Homo sapiens: one gene and its partner. The protein of the gene in region 1 purifies or fractionates together with the protein of each later gene. This does not show direct contact. Each region holds a gene or a part of one and is shown on either strand. Other genes may lie near its edges.

What was found.
Region 2: the proteins of NANOG (region 1) and USP9X purify together in Homo sapiens (affinity purification with western blotting; 2 studies listed by BioGRID, with this or other methods). This does not show direct contact.

What each region holds. Positions count from the first base shown.
Region 1 is NC_000012.12:7,794,489-7,799,809, reverse strand, and holds the end of NANOG (homeobox protein NANOG), read right to left. Parts: coding exon 5,267-5,321; intron 5,132-5,266; coding exon 4,715-5,131; 3' UTR 664-4,714; downstream 1-663. UniProt on the Homo sapiens protein: Transcription regulator involved in inner cell mass and embryonic stem (ES) cells proliferation and self-renewal. Imposes pluripotency on ES cells and prevents their differentiation towards extraembryonic endoderm and trophectoderm lineages.
Region 2 is NC_000023.11:41,164,535-41,168,944, forward strand, and holds part of USP9X (ubiquitin carboxyl-terminal hydrolase 9X), read left to right. Parts: intron 1-1,337; coding exon 1,338-1,680; intron 1,681-2,947; coding exon 2,948-3,043; intron 3,044-3,472; coding exon 3,473-3,684; intron 3,685-4,410.

The sequences.
Region 1 (5,321 bases):
GCGATCTCGGCTTACTGCAACCTCCGCCTCCCAGGTTCAAGCAATTCTGCCTCAGCCTCCTGAGTAGCCGGGATTATAGGCCCCTGCCATCATGCCCGGCTACTTTTTATTTAGGAGACGGGGTTTCGCCACGTTGGCCAGGCTGGTCTTGAACTCCTGTCCTCAGGTGATCCACCCACCTTGGCCTCCCAAAGTGTTAAGATTATAAGCTTGAGACACCATGCCTGGCCTGCAAATAGATTTCATAGCTGCTCAATGAGCCAAGAACTACTTTCGTGGCCAGGAATAACTGCCCCTTTGTCTCTCTGATAAGAGCACATTGACACCCATGTTCCAGGTACATCTGTTCTGCAGATCCCTGGCCCTAATTGAATCTCAAATTCTCACCCTTGGTTCTTGTCCTTAGCTCTTGTGACTACGCCAGTGTTATCAGAGGACATGTAAACACTGCTACCCTTTCTACTCCACATGCACCTTATCCTAAATGGATTAATGTATCCCATCTTTTTGCCTGTTTTGTTCCATGTATTTAATTGATTTAATACGATTCTAGCATCTTAATTTGATCTGTGAGCTTTTCTGTTTCTTAATAGTTTGCTTGGTAGTATCATCAGAGGTAGTGCTACCACTGCATTGAAGTAATTTCTCAGATGCTTAACCTTCTAAAATTCTCAAGCACACTTTATTCAAGGACCACAGAGTTTACACCAACTACCCAGAAGCCAGGAATAGCTTAAGGAGAGACTCACCACCAGCAGCTTCTTTTCAATCAAGTTTCACTTCAACCTCACACCCAGGAACCCATTCAAATTCCTACATTTCGGTATCCTTAGTCGAACTAACTTCCTGTGCCGGAAGCTTTTGTCTGTCCCAGTGACTTCTTTCTTTAACAAATTCCCTTCATCTCCCCCTTGAGTCAAAGCCCATGGGGGCCCCAGGAGGCATGCAATATTTACCAAGGGCTCTCCCCCACTTTCCTGCCTCTGTCTGGCAGTTGTTTGCCTTTACTTTTAGGTTTGTAGTCACAGCCTGTATTTTTTCCTGTAGACACACCAGGTTTTCTGAACGGTAGAATTACTCAGAGTAGAATTAACCTTGTCCTTCACCCCGAGAACTGAGCTTGAAATTCACTAATCAAGGCCTGTATTCCTCCCACTTCTGAGTTTTAAATTTATATTATGAAATTCGGAAAACCCAGGCAAATTCAATCCATGCTTCTCTCCTTCAGGTACAAACTGAAATGAAAATGAAAGCTGAGAAATCAAAATAATGAATTTTAAAAACTAAAATATGGTAAAGCTACTAAAATATAGCATTGGAAGTAACACACACCTCCTTTTGGGAAAAGAAAGGAAAATTTTCTAGAGAAAGGAAGAAATGTTAAACAGAGAGCCTTGTACTATCCTTTTTGCCTAATCTCCTATTATTTTTGTTTATTTTTGAGACAGTGACGCTCTGTCGCCCAGGCTGGAGTGGGGTGGCATTATCTGGGGTCACTGCAACCTCCCGGGTTCAAGTGATTATCCTGCCTCCGCCTTCCAAGTAGCTGAGATTACAGGCGCAAACCAAGACCTCTGGCAAATTTCTGTATTTTTAGTAGAGACAGGGTTTCGCCATATTGGCCATGCTAAACTTGAACTCCTGACCTCAGGTGATCCACCTGCCTTGGTCTCCCGAAGTGCTGGGATTACAGGTGTGAGCCACGGCACCTGGCCCACTAATCTTACTGCTTTTGACTGTAGTTATTATTGTTACTTTAAAGATTATTCCAAATAGATCTCTAAATTCTTACCTGCCAAGAGGTTGAAGATTAATACTGGGTGATTAAAAAAAAAAAAGTTCAGAAAACATAATACAGGGCTAGGCTGGTGACTCATGCCTGTAATCTCAGCACTTCGGGAGGCCAAGGCTGGTAGACTGCTTGAGCTCAGGAGTTTGAGACTAGCCAGGCCAACATGGGGAAACCCCGTCTCTCCTAAAAACACAAAAGTTAGCTGGCATGGTGGTGTGCACCTATAGTCTGGGCTATTTGAGAGACTCAGGCAGGAGGATTGCTTGAATCCGGGAAGTCGAGGCTACAGTGAGGTGAAATGGTGCCACTAAGCCCCAGTCTGAGCAGCAGAATAAGCCCGTCTTAAAAAAATAAAAAAGAAGGCTGGGCACTGTGGCTCATGCCTGTAATCCTAGCACTTTGGGAGACCGAGGAGGGTGGATTACCTGAGGTCAGGAGTTCGAGACCAGCCTGGTCAATACGGTGAAACCCCATCTCTACTAAATACAAAGAATTAGCTGGGCATAGTGGCAAATCCCTGTAATACCAGCCACTCGAAAGGCTGAGGCAAGAGAATCACTTGAACCTGGGAGGTGCAGGTTGCAGTGAGTAGAGATTGCATCATTGTGCTCCAGCCTGAGTAACAAAAGTGAAGTTCCATCTCAAAAAAAAAAAAAAAAATTGCCCAGACACGGTGGCTCACACCTATAATCCCACCACTTTGGGAGGCCGAGTCAGGTGGATCACCTGAGGTCAGGAGTTCGAGACCAGGCTGGCCAACATGGTGAAACCCCATCTCTACTAAAAATACCAAAAATTAGCCGGGTGTAATGTTGGGTGCCTGTAATCCCAGCTACTTAGGAGGCTGACGCAGGAGAATTGCTCGAACCCAGGAGGCGGAGGTTGCAGTGAGCCAAGATTGTGCCACTGCACTCCAGCCTGGGCAATAGAGAGAGACTGTCTAAAAAAACAAACGATAGGCCAGGCGCAGTGGCTCACGCCTGTAATCCCAACACTTTGGGAGGCCAAGGCTGGTGGATCATGAGGTCAGGAGTTCAAGACCAGCCTGGCCAACATAGTGAAACCCTGTCTCTACTAAAAATACAATTAGCTGGGCATGGTGGCTCACCCCTGTAGTCCCAGCTACTTGGGAGGCTGAGGCAGGAGAATCACTTGAACTCGGGAGGCGGAGGTTGCGGTGAGCCGAGATCGCTCCACTACACTCCAGCCTGGGCAACAGAGTAAGACTCCAGTCTTAAAAAAAAACAAAATAAAACAAAAAAAAAACACTTGGAATTAGACTGGATAGTCTTAGTAACATTGGACAATTGGGGAAATAATGAGAGAAAAGACTGGAAAAAACCACTCTGATAACCTGCATCATGCTGCTTCAGAGTGAAGGGACGTGCTCTCAGATCAGATACATTTAGGGCAGGCACAAGATGGGAAAAGGACAGTAAAGGATTATTAGTATAATTCACAGATGCCTGCGTAGCTGCTCTTAAGGTGAGAACATAAATCTGTTTCAACTAGCCTTAGAATTTACTTACATATAGGCCTCTGATGAAACTTTAAATGTTAGCATCAATTACAGATTCATACACGGAAATAACCCATTACATTTGTAGATGCACATGTACAATGCACGTAAGTGCCCTTTTTTCTAAAACTGGCATATTTATTATTCATTCATTCTAAAACTGGCATATTTATTTATTATTCATTTATTTACTTATTTATTTATTTATTTTTGAGATGGGAGTTTTGCTCTTGTCGCCCAAGCTGGAGTGCAGTGGTGTGATATTGGCTCACTACAACCTCCACCTACCAGGTTCAAGCGATTCTCCTGCCTCAGCCTCCCAAATAGCTGGGACTACAGGCATAGGCCACCACGCTCAGCTATTTCTATGCATTTCTAAGATAGCAGTGTCCTCAGCTAATTTCCTTCTCCACCCCAACCAAAAATTTAACAAAGATTTATGTTTAAGCTGTATATTTACTCATTGAAACACTCGGTGAAATCAGGGTAAAATCAACTAAAGGAAAAATAGTTGTTTCATTCATTTGAACTTAAACCAACTAAAGCAGTACTCATGTCATTACGATGCAGCAAATACGAGACCTCTTTCTACAAAGATTAGCACAACCAACAAATTAGGGGATATAGCAAAACAGAGCCAAAAACGGTAAGAAATCAATTAAGTATGTTACAGCTTAACCCTTTACCTCAATAGTTTTTAAAAAATAAGCAAAGCCTCCCAATCCCAAACAATACGAATACATCTTCATCACCAATTTGTACTTGTATTTCTTATTCTTGAGGTTAGATTCTAAACCCTAAAGATATCCAAACTAGTATTAGATCTACTTATCTATAGCCAGAGACGGCAGCCAAGGTTATTAAAATGTCTTTTCTAGGCAGGGCGCGGTGGCTCACGCCTGTAAATCCCAGCTGTTAGGGAGGCCGAGGCGGGTGGATCACAAGGTCAGGAGATCGAGACCATCCTGGCTAACACAGTGAAACCCCGTCTCTACTAAAAATACAAAATATTAGCCGGGCGAGGTGGCGGGCGCCTGTAGTCCCAGCTGCTCGGGAGGCTGAGGCAGGAGAATGGCGTGAACCCGGGAGACGGAGCTTGCAGTGAGCCAAGACCGCGCCACTGCACTCCAGCCTGGGCGACAGAGCAAGACTCCGTTTCAAAAAAAAAAAAAAAAAAAGTATTTTCTCCAGGAAGATCCAATAGGAAAAAAAAAAAAAAAGAAACCTCGCTGATTAGGCTCCAACCATACTCCACCCTCCATGAGATTGACTGGATGGGCATCATGGAAACCAGAACACGTGGTTTCCAAACAAGAAAAATCCTATGAGGGATGGGAGGAGGGGAGAGGAAGGATTCAGCCAGTGTCCAGACTGAAATTGAGTAATATCAGTTTCACTCATCTTCACACGTCTTCAGGTTGCATGTTCATGGAGTAGTTTAGGAATAAATCCATGGTTTGTGGAGTACTAAAATACCTAGTGGTCTGCTGTATTACATTAAGGCCTTCCCCAGCAGCTTCCAAGGCAGCCTCCAAGTCACTGGCAGGAGAATTTGGCTGGAACTGCATGCAGGACTGCAGAGATTCCTCTCCACAGTTATAGAAGGGACTGTTCCAGGCCTGATTGTTCCAGGATTGGGTGCACCAGGTCTGAGTGTTCCAGGAGTGGTTGCTCCAGGACTGGATGTTCTGGGTCTGGTTGCTCCAGGTTGAATTGTTCCAGGTCTGGTTGCTCCACATTGGAAGGTTCCCAGTCGGGTTCACCAGGCATCCCTGGTGGTAGGAAGAGTAAAGGCTGGGGTAGGTAGGTGCTGAGGCCTTCTGAAAGAGAAGGAGGGATTAACAGAAAGGGTACAAGGACAACCAGAACTGTCTGTGACTGGAGTTGTGTGTTTCAGGGATGGACAAGATTGAAAGATCACTGAAAGGAAAGAACAGAATGAAGTTTCCTGTTACCTGCGTCACACCATTGCTATTCTTCGGCCAGTTGTTTTTCTGCCACCTCTTAGAT
Region 2 (4,410 bases), on another chromosome or scaffold:
AACTATTGTAGTTTCTACTCTGTTAGTACCTCTGTATGTGAGCTAATAGCAACTAACTCAAGGAAGAGGAACCTGACTTTAATGCCTGCTGTGTGTTGGGCCTGTGCCAGACACTTTATATTTACTCCGAAGCAACACAGTGCAGCAGGTGTTACTCCCATCTGATCAGTAAGAAACCCAAGATTCCAATGGCTTAAGGTAGCTTGTTTGAAATATCACAGCCAGTATACGATGGAATTGCACTACTCAACTAGGTCTCTTTTACTTAAGTCTGTGCTCTTCCTATTAGACCGGTAGTTTTTCAAACTTACGTAGGAGCTTTAGGGCTTCTGAGTTAAGTTCCTTGAAGATTTCTGAACAAGCAGTAGGAAGTTTCCCGATTTTTCCTTTCTTTTTCCTCTCCCAACAACTGGTGCAGCTCTACTTTTTAAAATATATATCAGATTCCAAATGGGATTTTCATTTGAAGAAGGGTCTATGCCATCTTTAGAAAAAAACAAAAAAATGGAAAACCTTTGAAAAGTTAAGCAGTTTTAACTCATAAATATTGATGGATTAGTTATTTGTGAAAGTCACTTGATTGAATACCTCATTTTTCAATGATGCCATATAAGCAGGCTGCTAAGTCTTTTTTCTGGTTGTTGTTGTTGGAGACAGGGTCTCACCCAGGATTCTCTACTTAAATATGACTGTTGTTAATTGAGTGCTACAATTAAATTAGCCATTGCCATCTTTAATTGGAGTGCAGCGGCACAGTCTTGGCTCACTGCAACCTCCGCCTCCCGGGTTCAATTGATTCTCATGCCTCAGTTTCCCCAGTAGCTGGGACTACAGACATGAGCCACCACACCCGGCTAATTTTTATATTTTTAGTCAAGATGGGGTTTTGCCATGTTGGCCAGGCTGGTCACAAACTCCTGACCTCAGGTGATCCGCCCACCTCAGCCTCCCAAAGTGCTGGCATTACAGGCGTGAGTTACTGTGCCCAGCCTAAGTCTTTTATTTTTAACTCAAGCTACTAAACATGCTTCTTTCCAAAAGTCTGGTTTCAAAAACTAAAGGTTCATGGAATGAATCTTTTATTCCTAATTCAGCTAGCTGCATTTCAGGCACAAAGTGGGTGTTCAGTGTGTGCTTGTTGAATTAATTAATATCTAGTGGGGATTTTTTTTTAGTACCAGATAAAAGTAGAGAAATAGGTTATTTTGAAAGAATGAATATCTTTTTATCTATAGTTAAAATATAATGGTGATAAATGTATTTTATAGGTAATACAGATTGCCTTTCCGGATAAAAATTACATAAATCTAATTGCCAATTTTCAATGTTTTTTCAAGATTTTTATTGAAGGATGGTCAGCTGTGGCTATGTGCTCCTCAGGCAAAACAAATATGGAAATGCTTAGCTGAGAATGCAGTTTACCTTTGTGATCGTGAAGCCTGTTTTAAGTGGTATTCCAAGTTGATGGGGGATGAACCAGACTTAGATCCTGATATTAATAAGGACTTCTTTGAAAGTAATGTGCTTCAGCTTGATCCTTCTCTGTTAACTGAAAATGGAATGAAGTGTTTTGAGCGATTCTTCAAAGCTGTGAATTGTCGAGAAGGAAAACTAGTAGCAAAAAGGAGAGCCTATATGATGGATGACTTGGAGTTAATAGGATTAGATTACCTTTGGAGGGTAAGTCAAAAGTAGGAACTCTGTAAATGGTGTCTGATGTACTTTTTCATGTACGTAAGGAATTGTAATTTTGCATATAAATTGTGTATTTTACTCTGATGTTTGTCTCAGGAATTTGGTGTAGTTAGGAATTGTTCATTTTTATTATGTCACCTGTCAGTGGGCTTTTTCTTCTCTCTTCCTCTCCCTCCTCCTGCCACTGATGTTCCTTTTGTCTTAGCTTAGTATCTGTGTATTCCATAGATGTGCACTAAACATACAAATCTTTCATTCCTCCCCCGTGGATATTAATGTTCCTTCCCGAGTTTTCATTCAGTGTCGATCTGTTTCCTCCTCTTCAATGTTTAACACTAAAATAGAGGACAGAAGAGAGGACTTGTGTTTAGTATAGATTATGAGTATATGCTTTATTGGCACTGTTTACCTTGTGATATTTTTAAATACCTGGGGGAATAAAATACTATCTTTTTAAGGCTAATCTATTTTTATAGTACTACTCTATTATGCCTATCTTTAATCTGACCTGTTATACAGCAGTTTATATTGTTTGGATGTCTCACATATTTTCCTGCAAACCATAGATAAAGATGTTTATTGTGGCATTTGAGTATTTAAAAGCTTTTAATTAAGTATGTGGTTTTCAACATTGTTTTAACAGCAGAAACACATCTTAAAACTCAAAATTTGCACCACACTACAAAAGTAAACTGAATTGAACAAGGAAAATATGTTTTCTTACTTGGTCTCCCCATGCTTATCCCCTTTCCCCTCCCCAACCCTTTTATAGGGGCCAACACTGAAACACTTCCTCAAAGTCCCCTAGGGTTCTGAACATAGTTTGGAAACCACTAATGTAATTAGATGAGTGATAAAGATTTATAGAAACTGGGGGTAGAGTAGTCCTTTATGCTAAACTGTGTTTCATGTAATCTCTTATTTCCTGTCAACTAATTTGAATTTCTTCTTGAGTGTCTCACTTGGTTATCAAGATATTAAATTATAGGGTTAAATAATAGTGGTCAAAGCGTATTTTATTTTTACAAAAATGTACCTTTCATTCTTAAATTATTCAGAGACTTTCATTTTGCATTTATTACCCTTTCTTTTGGTCTGTGCTTCTCACTTAATTTTACTTGATTATCAAAGTCAACTTACCATTAAATCATTGAATAGTGTGTTTAAGATAACTGAGGATATGGTTTGAATTTAAATGCCCAACAAAAATATATGTTGAAAGGGATGAATACTTTTATCATTTTGAAACCAGGTCGTGATTCAGAGTAATGATGATATTGCCAGCAGAGCTATAGATCTCCTCAAAGAGATATACACGAACCTTGGTCCAAGACTACAAGTCAATCAGGTGAGGATTGATGTGCATTAAAACTTCCATATATAATTCTTTCGGCCCCCATTTCTCTTATACAAAAGAGAAAAAATATTATCTAAATGAATCTTGCCTTGTTAGTTGTCTTGAAGTGATTGGGTTATTTTTAATATAACTATTTATTAGATGTTGAAATGGCAAAGAAAGTCTATGTGAATTCATTTTGATGCTAACACCTAATCCTGAAGTTCACTTTTGACTAATTTATGTTTGTTAACTTATGTAATGCTAGCTTCCTTTTAATAAACATACATTTTATTATTGTATGGATTCTCTACTTAAATATGACTGTTGTTAATTGAGTGCTACAATTAAATCAGCCATTGCCATCTTTAATTGGATTAATATTTGGTTTTTACATTTTAAAGCAATTTTAACTGTGTTTATTTGGCCTGATATTTGTAGGTGGTGATCCATGAAGACTTCATTCAGTCTTGTTTTGATCGTCTGAAGGCTTCCTATGACACATTGTGTGTTTTGGATGGTGACAAAGACAGTGTTAATTGTGCAAGACAGGAAGCTGTTCGAATGGTTCGAGTATTAACTGTTTTAAGGGAATATATAAATGAATGTGACAGTGATTATCATGAGGAAAGAACAATTCTCCCTATGTCGAGGTTTGTGAATAACTAATCTATTGGTGCTAATTCTTAATTATTTGATATTTTCCTAGCCATTTGGTAAAAGGAGAGCAGAAATTTTTCTCGTTTGAAAATTGTTGTCTTTGCCCATTAAAAACATTTTCATTTCATCTAATTTTTTTTAATAACCTCCCCCACTCTCCCATCTGGTTTTGTTTTGGTTTTTTGGGTGAGGCATTCTTAAGTTGTTTTCTAGTTTTCTTTTTGTCTTTGACATTATTACTCATTAAGTGTTGCAGTGGCATTTTGCAGTTGAAGTGTTTTTGTTTATTTGTTTATTTTGAGAAAAGGTCTTATTCTGTCACCCAGGCTGGAATGCCGAGGTGTAATCATGGCTCACTGCGGGCTCAAGCGACCTTTCCACCTCAGCCTCCCAGGTAGCTGGGGCTACAGGCACAGGCTACCACACCTGGCTAATTTTTTTTGACTTTTTGTGGAGGTGGGGTTTCACTACATTGCCCAGGCTGGTTTCAAACTCCTACGCTCAAGCAAATCCTCCTGCTTTGGCCTCCCAAAGTGCTGGGATTATAGGCGTGAGCTACAGTGCCTGGCCTGTAAAGAGCTCTTAAAAGCTGCCTTGCATGGCATATAACAAATATTTTCAAATGGTGTTTATAGTTTTGGGATGTTTTGTGTAGTCAATGCCATCATTTTTTTTAAAGAGTTTTGTTTATTAATCATGAAATTATATACAGTTGCTTC